Linked DNA regions of Homo sapiens. The protein of the gene in region 1 purifies or fractionates together with the protein of each later gene. This does not show direct contact. Each region holds a gene or a part of one and is shown on either strand. Other genes may lie near its edges.

Evidence for each region.
Region 2: the proteins of FCRL3 (region 1) and MAP4K3 purify together in Homo sapiens (affinity purification with mass spectrometry; one large-scale study listed by BioGRID and IntAct). This does not show direct contact.

The regions. Positions count from the first base shown.
Region 1 is NC_000001.11:157,683,770-157,688,715, forward strand, and holds part of FCRL3 (Fc receptor-like protein 3 isoform 1 precursor), read right to left. Parts: intron 1-4,946. UniProt on the Homo sapiens protein: Promotes TLR9-induced B-cell proliferation, activation and survival but inhibits antibody production and suppresses plasma cell differentiation. Enhances activation of NF-kappa-B and MAPK signaling pathways in TLR9 stimulated B-cells.
Region 2 is NC_000002.12:39,325,245-39,329,713, forward strand, and holds part of MAP4K3 (mitogen-activated protein kinase kinase kinase kinase 3), read right to left. Parts: intron 1,034-4,469; coding exon 902-1,033; intron 718-901; coding exon 655-717; intron 568-654; coding exon 486-567; intron 385-485; coding exon 274-384; intron 1-273. UniProt on the Homo sapiens protein: Serine/threonine kinase that plays a role in the response to environmental stress. Appears to act upstream of the JUN N-terminal pathway.

The sequences.
Region 1 (4,946 bases):
AATGGCTTTTCCACACCTCTTCTCTCCTTCTCTTTCACTTGGCTAGCTCCGATTTATCTTTCTTCCAGAGCTGTCCCTGATGCCAACAGGCTGGATTAAGTAAACTGTCTCCATGCACATAAGACCATGTAATATTAAAATTACTATATTGTTTCGTAATTATTTATTTCTATTTGCCTCTATTTCTCTCTTTCATGAAAGGGTGTGCTACTTGAGGCTGTAAACCTCATCTTAAATTTTTTTGTATTCCTAATATCATGCTTAGCAGTTAAAAATATTCAACAAAGATGTGTTAAACAACTGAACAAAGTATTTACTTTGAGGACTTAAAAATAACAAATTGACAATTTTCTAAAAGGAGATTGCCTGTTAGAAGTCTATCCTTGAAGCCAAATCTATCAGACTTAAAAATATGGCAAGTTTCCGTCATCACCGAAATATTGAATCTTTCAGGCTTGCCCCAATACAAGCCTTATCCAGGTTCCCATCCTTGTCCTTTGCCTTTTTAAAATCTGTGGCTCTAATCGGTCTCATTGGCTTAGAGAATGCAAGTCGTTGCTCAAAATAAACATACCAGCCTTGACTCTCATGAAAAATAACTGAGTAACTCCCTGTTCCTCAGGGAGTGGGACTCCTGAGTTAAGCTAGAGGGGTATGATCAGGATCTGGTCCTGAATCTCCTCAGAGCAATCACAATCCACATCAGTCAATAACCAGTATCTTTTCTGTGGGTGGTTAGCTCCGACCTAGAATGCATCTGGGAGTCAGTCTATCTCCTTATCTGTAAAAGAGAAAACTGAGACCTAGACAGGTGGCTATTTATTATACAAGCTAATATTCCTTGAAGACATATGGGCCAGCACGGTGCTAAGCAGTTTACCTAGGTTGTGTCATAGTACCTAAAAGGTAGATACTGTTATTATTATAACCACTTCATAGATGAAGAAACTGAGTTTAGTGAGTTTAACTTATTTGCCCAATATCAAGTTGGCAAGTTTTGTTACTGGAATTTCAACACAGCCAGATTTACTATAGAGTCAAAAAACCTATCATTCCTTTTAGGAGTGATTCACTCAGGCAAGGAGCAGAGCCCTTAACTTTTAGAAAAATGTAGAAGGTCTGAGCTTCTTCCTGAGAAGTCTTGTCAATGGTGAGAAGGGAGACTTTGCTATGAGGAGGTACAATAAGCAAGATTTTGAGAAAAGAAGAGCACAGACCCTCTGCTTGGTGAACTGTCCTAATTCCTTAGTGAGTTTGTTATTTAAAATAACACTTCCCCTAAGTCTGGGGGACAGACCACCTGGGCTTCTGTTCACATGGATCATGTGAAATGATTGTCAGTTTTCTCTCCTGGTGCTGTGCTGACTGACAACCTCAACACTGAGATTCAAATGTCTTCTTTTAGTATGTTATAGATTAGAAAATGGCATCCCAGATAAACAATGAGAGGAAAAAAAGAAAAGTAATTTTGGAAGTAGGAGGTGTGACTAGCCTTCTATAAGTAATATAATTTCACTTGAAAACAGCAATAAGTTGAAGATGTATACTATAAGCCCTAAAGCAATCACCAGAGTAACAAAACAAATAATTATTGCTTCCAACAAGAAAACTTAACTATTCTAAATATATATGCACCCAACATTGCAGCACCCAGAATCATAAAACAAGTTCCTCTTGATCTACAAAAAAACCTGGACAGTCACACAATAATAGTGGGAGATTTCAATATCCCACTGACAGAGTTAGACAGATCATCGAGGCAGAAAACTGACAAAGAAACTCTGGACTTTGTCAGAAAACTGACAAAGAAACTTGACACTTGACCAAATAGACCTAACACACATCTACAGAATATTCTATCCGGCAACTATGGAATATACATTCTTCTCACCTGCATGTGGAACATATCCTAGGATCAGCCATATGCTGGGCCATAAAGCAGATATCAATAAATTTTTTTAAAAAATCATACCAAGTACACTCTTAGACTACAGTGCAATAAAAATAGAAATAAATATCAAGAAGATCTCTCAAAACTAACAAATACATGGAAATTAGACAACTTACTCCTGAATAACTCCTGGGTAAAGATAAAAATTAATGCATAAATAAAAAAATTTTTTTTAATTAATGAAAAAGGGACACAACTATGCATGTCCACTATCACTACGCCTATTCAAGATAGTCCTGAAATTCCTAGCCAGAGCAACCAGGCAAGAGAAAGAAATAAAAAGCACCCAAATAGCTAAATAAGTCACACTTTCTCTTTTCACTGACTGCATGACTCTCTAACTTGAAAGCCCTCAAGACTCTGCCAAGAGTAAGGTTTCAGGACACAAAATTAAGGTACAAAAACCAGTAGCATTTCTATACATCAACAAAGTCAGGCAAAGAGTTAAATCAATGGTACAATTCCATTTTGAATAGCCACAAAGAAAATGAAATACCTAGGAATACAGCTAACAAAGGAGGTGAAAGATCTCTGCGAGAAATTAAAAAAAAAAATGCTGAAATAAAGACAACACAAATAAATGGAAAAATATTGCATGCTCATAGATTGGAAGAATTAATATTGTTAAAATGGCCATACTGCCCAAAGAAATTTACAGATTCAATATTATTCCTATCAAATTACCAATATCATTCTTCACAGAATTAGAAAAATCTATTTTAAAATTCATATGGAACCAAAAAAGAGCCCAAATAGCCAAAGCATTCCTAAGCAAAGACAGCAAAGCTGAAGGCATCACACCTCACAACTTCAAACTATACTATAAGCCTACAGTAATCAAAATAGTATAGTACTGATACAAAAACAGACACATAGACCAACGGAATGGAATAGAAAACTCAGAAATAAAGATTCACACCTACAACCATCTGATCTTTGCCAAGGCTAACAAAAAGAAGCAATGGGGAAATGACTGTCTATTCAATAAATGGTGCTGGGATAACTTGCTAGCCATATTCAGAAAACTGAAACTAGACCCCTACTTTTCACCATATACAAAACTTAATTCAGGATGGATCAAAGATTTAAATGTAGGACTCCAAACTATAAAATTCCTAGAGGAAAACCTAGGAAATACAATCCTTGACATCAGCTTTGGCCAAGAATTTTTGGCTAAGTTCCCAAAGCAATTGCAACAAAAACAAAAATTGACAAGTGTGACTTAATTAAACTAAAGAGCTTCTGCACGGCAAAAGAAATTATCAACAGAGTAAACAGGCAACCTATAGAATGGGAGAAAATATTAGGAAACTATGCATCTGACAGAAGTCTAATGTTGAGACCTGTAAGGAACTTAAACAAATCAACAAGCAAAAACCAAATAACCCCATTAAAATATAAGTGAAGGACATGAACAGCCACTTCTCAAAAGAAGTCAAGCAAGCAGCCAACAAACATAAAAAAATGCTCAACATCACTAATCTCCAGAGAAATGGAAATCAAAACCACCATCAGATACTATCTCACACCAGTCAGAATGGCTATTACTTAAAAGTCAGAAAACAATAGGTGCTGGTGAGGCTGAGGAGAAAAGGGAATGCTTATACACTGTTGGTGGGAATTTAAGTTAGTTTAACCACTGTGGAAAGGGGTTTGGAGATTTCTCAAAGAACTTATAATAGAGCTACCATTCAACCTAGTAATTCTGTTATTGGTATACGCTCACAAAAAAATAAATCATTCTGTCAAAAAGACACATGCACTCATATGTTCATTGCCATACTATTCACAATAGCAAAGATATGGTATCAATCTAGGTGCCCACCAGTGGTAGACTGGATAAAGAAAATGTGGTACATATACACCATGGAATACTACGCAGACATAAAAAAATGAAATCATGTCTTTTGCAGCAACATAGATTTAACTGGAGGCCATAATCATAAACCAACTAACACAAGAACAGAAAACCAAATACCACATGTTCTCACTTATAAGTGGGACCTAAACATTGAGCAAACATGGACATAAACATGGGAACAACAGACACTGTGGACTACTAGATGGGGGAGATGGGGAGGAATGTGTGAGTTGAAAAACTACCTATTGGGTACTATGCTTACTATCTGGGTGACAGGATCTGTACCCCAAATCTCAATATCATGCAATATAACCATGTAACCAATCCACACATTTACCCCTTACATCTAAAATAAAAGTTGAAAATTTTTAAAAAGTTATGGCTATTATACTAACAAAGGAAGTAAAATAGAATTAAAAAATCAATTATTCCAAAAATAAGTCAAAGTAAAGCAAAAAATAGATGTGACAAATAGAAAGCAAATAGCAAAATAGACATGAAACCTAATCATATCAATAATTACACTAGTGCAAATGGTCTAAACACCTCATTTTAAAGGCAGACTACAATATTAAACTAAACAAAACCGGCAAGAATTAGCTGCATGCTATCTATTAAAAATTAACTTTAAATATAGGGGTACAAATAGGCTAAAAGCAAAAGGATGGAAAAAAATCACATGCTAACACTAATTATATTAACATATTAATATTAGACAAAGACTGTTTCACAGTAAGTGATTCAACCAGGGATACAGAGGGTCATTTCATAAGGATAAAGTGGATAATTCATCAAAAACATGAAAATTCTTAACACTTATCCACCTAATAATGAGCAATTCCAAATTCTGGAAGCAAAACTTGATAGAATTGCAGAAGAAATGGATAAATTCACAATTACAGTTAAAGATTTTAATTCCCCTATCTCAGTAATTGATAGATCAGGTAGACAAAAAATCAGTAAGGATATAGAGGAATTGAGAAACATTATCAATCAAATTCACTGGCAGGCAGTCATACTGTAAGAAATGTTAAAAAAAAAAAAAAGGTCCTTCAGGCAGAACAAAATTGATACCAGGTGAAAATATGGCTATATAAAAAGGAATGAAAAATTCTGGAAGTGGTAACTGAGTAA
Region 2 (4,469 bases), on another chromosome or scaffold:
TTGAAATAACTACAGTGATTTCAACAAGTGGATTAAATGATATGCCTTTGCCATTTTCACACTATAGTCACCTATAAGTAGTCAGTAAGAAAAACCTAGCATTTGACTTTCCATGAAAGGCAAAGACAAAGAATTAATTGTTCCCTCAAGAGCTTTTTTATTTAAACTAGGCCCCAAAATTAAAAAAATGGATTTTGAGACGTACATACAGACACACATATATACATACACATATACATGTTATATATGCCCGCTGGTAAAAGCAATTCCTACCTCAGGATCATCATCATCGAAATCATGGTAAGTGGAATGATCTGGATTATTTACTTTATCCAACAGCTCGATTGCCAAAGACCGTGTCAAATGTTGTGTTACAAAAGGATGCTATAAAAATTAAATACAATGCAGAACACTTACTATAAATCTGATTGAATAACATTTTATCTTTTGAAATATATATATATATTTCAGGGCAAAAATAATACCTGTAATAATTTTTCAGCAGTAGGTCTTTTTTTCGGATTTTTGGTAAGTGCCATTTTCACAAAGTGATGAAAACTATTTGACCTAAGAAATTTAGAAAATTAGACTTTTACATTCCAATTCATTTTTTGCTCATCTCACCATAAAAGTAAATAACATAAAAATACTTACCATTTCATTTTATCCTTTAGTTTAGGAGGCTGAAAATTGCTTTTTGTCATTAGAAATAATGCTCTGAAAAATCAACAAATCATTACACAGCATTTTAATATTTCACATTTTTATCTATTACACAAATTCTATTACTATTTGTTCCCCAAATAAGGTAAAACAAGACTAAGAAAATTACTTGTTCATGACAGCATACTAAGAGGATAAAAACCTTAAGCGTAAGATTCTTCAATGATGATGCACTGACCTCATTGGGTGTAAGTCAAACATAGGAGGCTGAAGCTCTGCAAGTTCTATGGCAGTGATTCCCACTGCCCAGAGATCACAGAGTTGATTGTAACCCCCCTTCCTCTCAACAGCTGCAACTTCTGGAGCCATCCTGAAATAAATATTCCAGAAAATAAAAAACTTCTGTTATATGTTTTCCTTTATACTCCCACCCAGAGGCACAAGGAATTATCACTATCTAAATTAAGGCCTCTTTAGGCCTTGGTTTTTGAAAAATAAATATGCAGTACTTAAAAGGTCCACCTTTTCCAAGATCTTGACATCTCATAAGACCCTCATTAGTAACTTGCTTTTGATTATACAGGCTTATAGGTGGAAGGGACTTGCCTTGCCTTGCCTCAGACGAGACTTTGGATTTGGACTTCTGGGTTAATGCTGGAATGAGTTAAGACTTTGGGGGACTGTTGGGAAGGCATGACTGGTTTTGAAATGTAAAAAGGACCTGCAATTTGGGGGGTGGGCAGGGGCAGAATGATATGGTTTGGCTCTGTGTCCCCACCCAAATCTCATCTCGAACTGTAATCCCCATGTGTTGAGGGAGGGGCCTCGTAGGAGGTGATTGGATCATTGGGTCAGTTTCCCCTATGCTTTTCTCATGATAGTGAGCAGGTTCTCACAAGGTCTGATGGTTTTAAAAGTGGCCGTTTCCCGAGTGCTCTCTCCTGCCACCTTGTGAAGAAGGTGCCCGCTTTTTTGCCTTACTCCATGATTGTAAGTTTTCTGAGGCCTCCCCAGCCATGCAATACAATACTGTGAGTCAATCAAACCTTTGTTTATAAATTTTAAAAAAGACTCTGCACTTCAGTCCCCTATTGCTGATTCCATTGTTACTTCCTTATACTAGTTACTAAAAAGGTTTATAAAAATATACAATTCTAATAGACCAACACGTCCAAAATCATTCATGCTCCCAATCTCTCTGTACATGCAAAATTCAATAAATAATATTCGTAATAAGCAACCTATAGCTCTACTTCCTGTTATCAAAAAACTGCGACCAGGCAATCCCTGTTTTTACTTCACCAAAACTATTCCGTCGGGCACCAATAATCTTCATATTTAGTATTTAATTCATATTTACTAAAAACTTATTTGGCATTTTTTCTAGTTCTATTATAATAATGGAAAAGTTATAAAAACAAGTGTCTACTTTTAAAAAATGTATTTATTCAGAGGAAAGTTACCCAAATTCAGTAATTTTTTTGTTTCTCTTTACTTTGCTACAGTCTTATTCTAATTATACTTCCATAAATTTGAATTTGACTGATTTAAACTATTAATTATCAAATACAAAAATTTTCAAATCCTAAACAATATTTTTAAAAGCAACTAATTGAAATAAACATCTCAACTCTTCCATACTAAAGAGCAGTCTAGATAATCTTACAAATACACATTTATCTTCCTGGTATGATTTCAGGAAGGTCAAGTAAGTCAGTAAAGTCAAAAACAAAAAACCCTCTAACTTTCAAAACCCCTGGTCTTAAAATCTTTTAAATCTGAAACAGATCTTATGAAAATTTAAATTACTATAAGAAAAGCGAATTTCAAAGTGTCAGTTATTACTTTTATGATGACTAGATTCCAAGTAGCTGGTAGAAATGCCCTAGTGGAGTGGGAAATGCATGCAAGTGATACGCTCCTAACTTGCCTCCCCTTACTAGTTCACCACATTAGCTGATGCTCTCCCTTCTTCTATGTAAATACAAGGGAAACATTACACTTAGTACATGTCTACTCCAGCCAGCTAAGTTGTGTGCTTATCACAGTCAACTGGGTTCATCTCTGAAACTGTTTATTCCAGTTACATTTGCTATTGTAAACACATAGTTATAATGAAGGTTTAAAAGTTAGCGAATGCTGGCCGGGAGCAGTGGCTCACGCCTGTAATCCTAGCACTTTGGGAGGCCGAGGCAGGTGGATGGTTTGAGCTCAGGAGTTTGAGACCAGCCTGGGCAACATGGCAAAACCCCGTCTCTACCAAAAATGCAAAAATTAGCTGGGCATGGTGGCGCATGCCTGTGGTTCTAGTTACTTGGGAGGCTGAGGTGGGACGATCGCTTGAGCCTGGGAAGTAGAGGTTGCAGTGAGCTGAGATCACACGACTGCACTTCAGCCTGGGTGACAGAGTGAGACCCCATCTCAAAAACCAAAAACAAAAACAAACAAAAATTAGTGAATGCTTTAGAAAGACTTCGCTTTTAGAAAGGCAAATTTCTAAAGATGAGCCAAAAAACCTGGTACGTTAGATAAGAACATGACAATGGCAGAAAACTGGGAAGGCTACAGATTATATGATTCCATTTCTATGCCACTCAAGAAAAAGGCACAAATATAGAGACAGAAATCAGATCAGGGGTTACCAGATGCTACGGATGGAGGTAGAGCATTTACTAAAAAGGGGCAAAATAAAAGATTTTTTGGATAGTGTCAATGTGTTCTGGTGGTTTCTTACCACCACAGCATACAAGTTTTTCAACATTCATACAACTGTATGAATTTGCACAACTGTACACCTAATAAGGGTAAATTTATGCCTCAATAAACCTGACTAAGAAATGTAGTTGATGCATTGGGGTGTGTGTGGTTTGCATTACTAAAATGGAACTCTAGTAAGTGATCTACTCTAAGAAAAGGCCTTGATTCTATATCAAAAGACTGTTGAATAAATGTACATATATGTCTTAAATTGAAATAAAATGTTTAAGGTACATATGTGTTTAATTTTGAGAACTGTCATTTCAAGCAGACTTTTTCGAACAACTGAATAACTGCCGATCTAATCACTTGGGAAGAGAGAGGTTCTAAAGTTTTAGATTTTAGGTAGGAAAGATATAATACCAGAAAGACAGATACAGGGAGAGTGTTCCCAAAATTAACTTTACCTAATTCACAATTTCACATGTTCCCAAGATATTTCCCACATTATTCCAAGAGTAATGACATAAATTTTTAACCTGTGAAACTGGAGTTGGAAATTTCATCATTAACATTCAGTGAATGAATATTGTATAGAATCAAGTCAGATCCTGAAGATTTAATGAGATGTTTACAATAAAACTGAGAAGACAGTGTACTTAAAAATGACAGCAATTCAAGCCCTCACTCTGCTCAACCCAAAACAATAAAGAGAAGAACAAAGAGAAATATATACACATACCATCTTTGAAAAGTCCAGCAGACATATTTTAACTAAAACCATAACACACAGACTAAAAACAGAAGAATAGTAAATGATGTAGCAAACAGGAGGCAGGGCAAACCTAAGCAGGTGCCAAGGAAAAGAACAACAACTAGCAGCCAATGAGCCTCAAATACCCTGGAAATGTTGACAAGCTAGGTTTAAAAAGTAGCAATAGTAGGGTTGAGGTTGGGCTGGAAACAGGAGTATTAGAAAGTGTCAACAGTCAGTCCCTGGCATTCCTACTCTTATCCATTAAGCCCCAGCAACTATTGCCCCCCAATTCCCACTGGATAAGGACCAAGACGAAGAAGAGAGACTGCAGACTCAAGAGACACCAGGAACC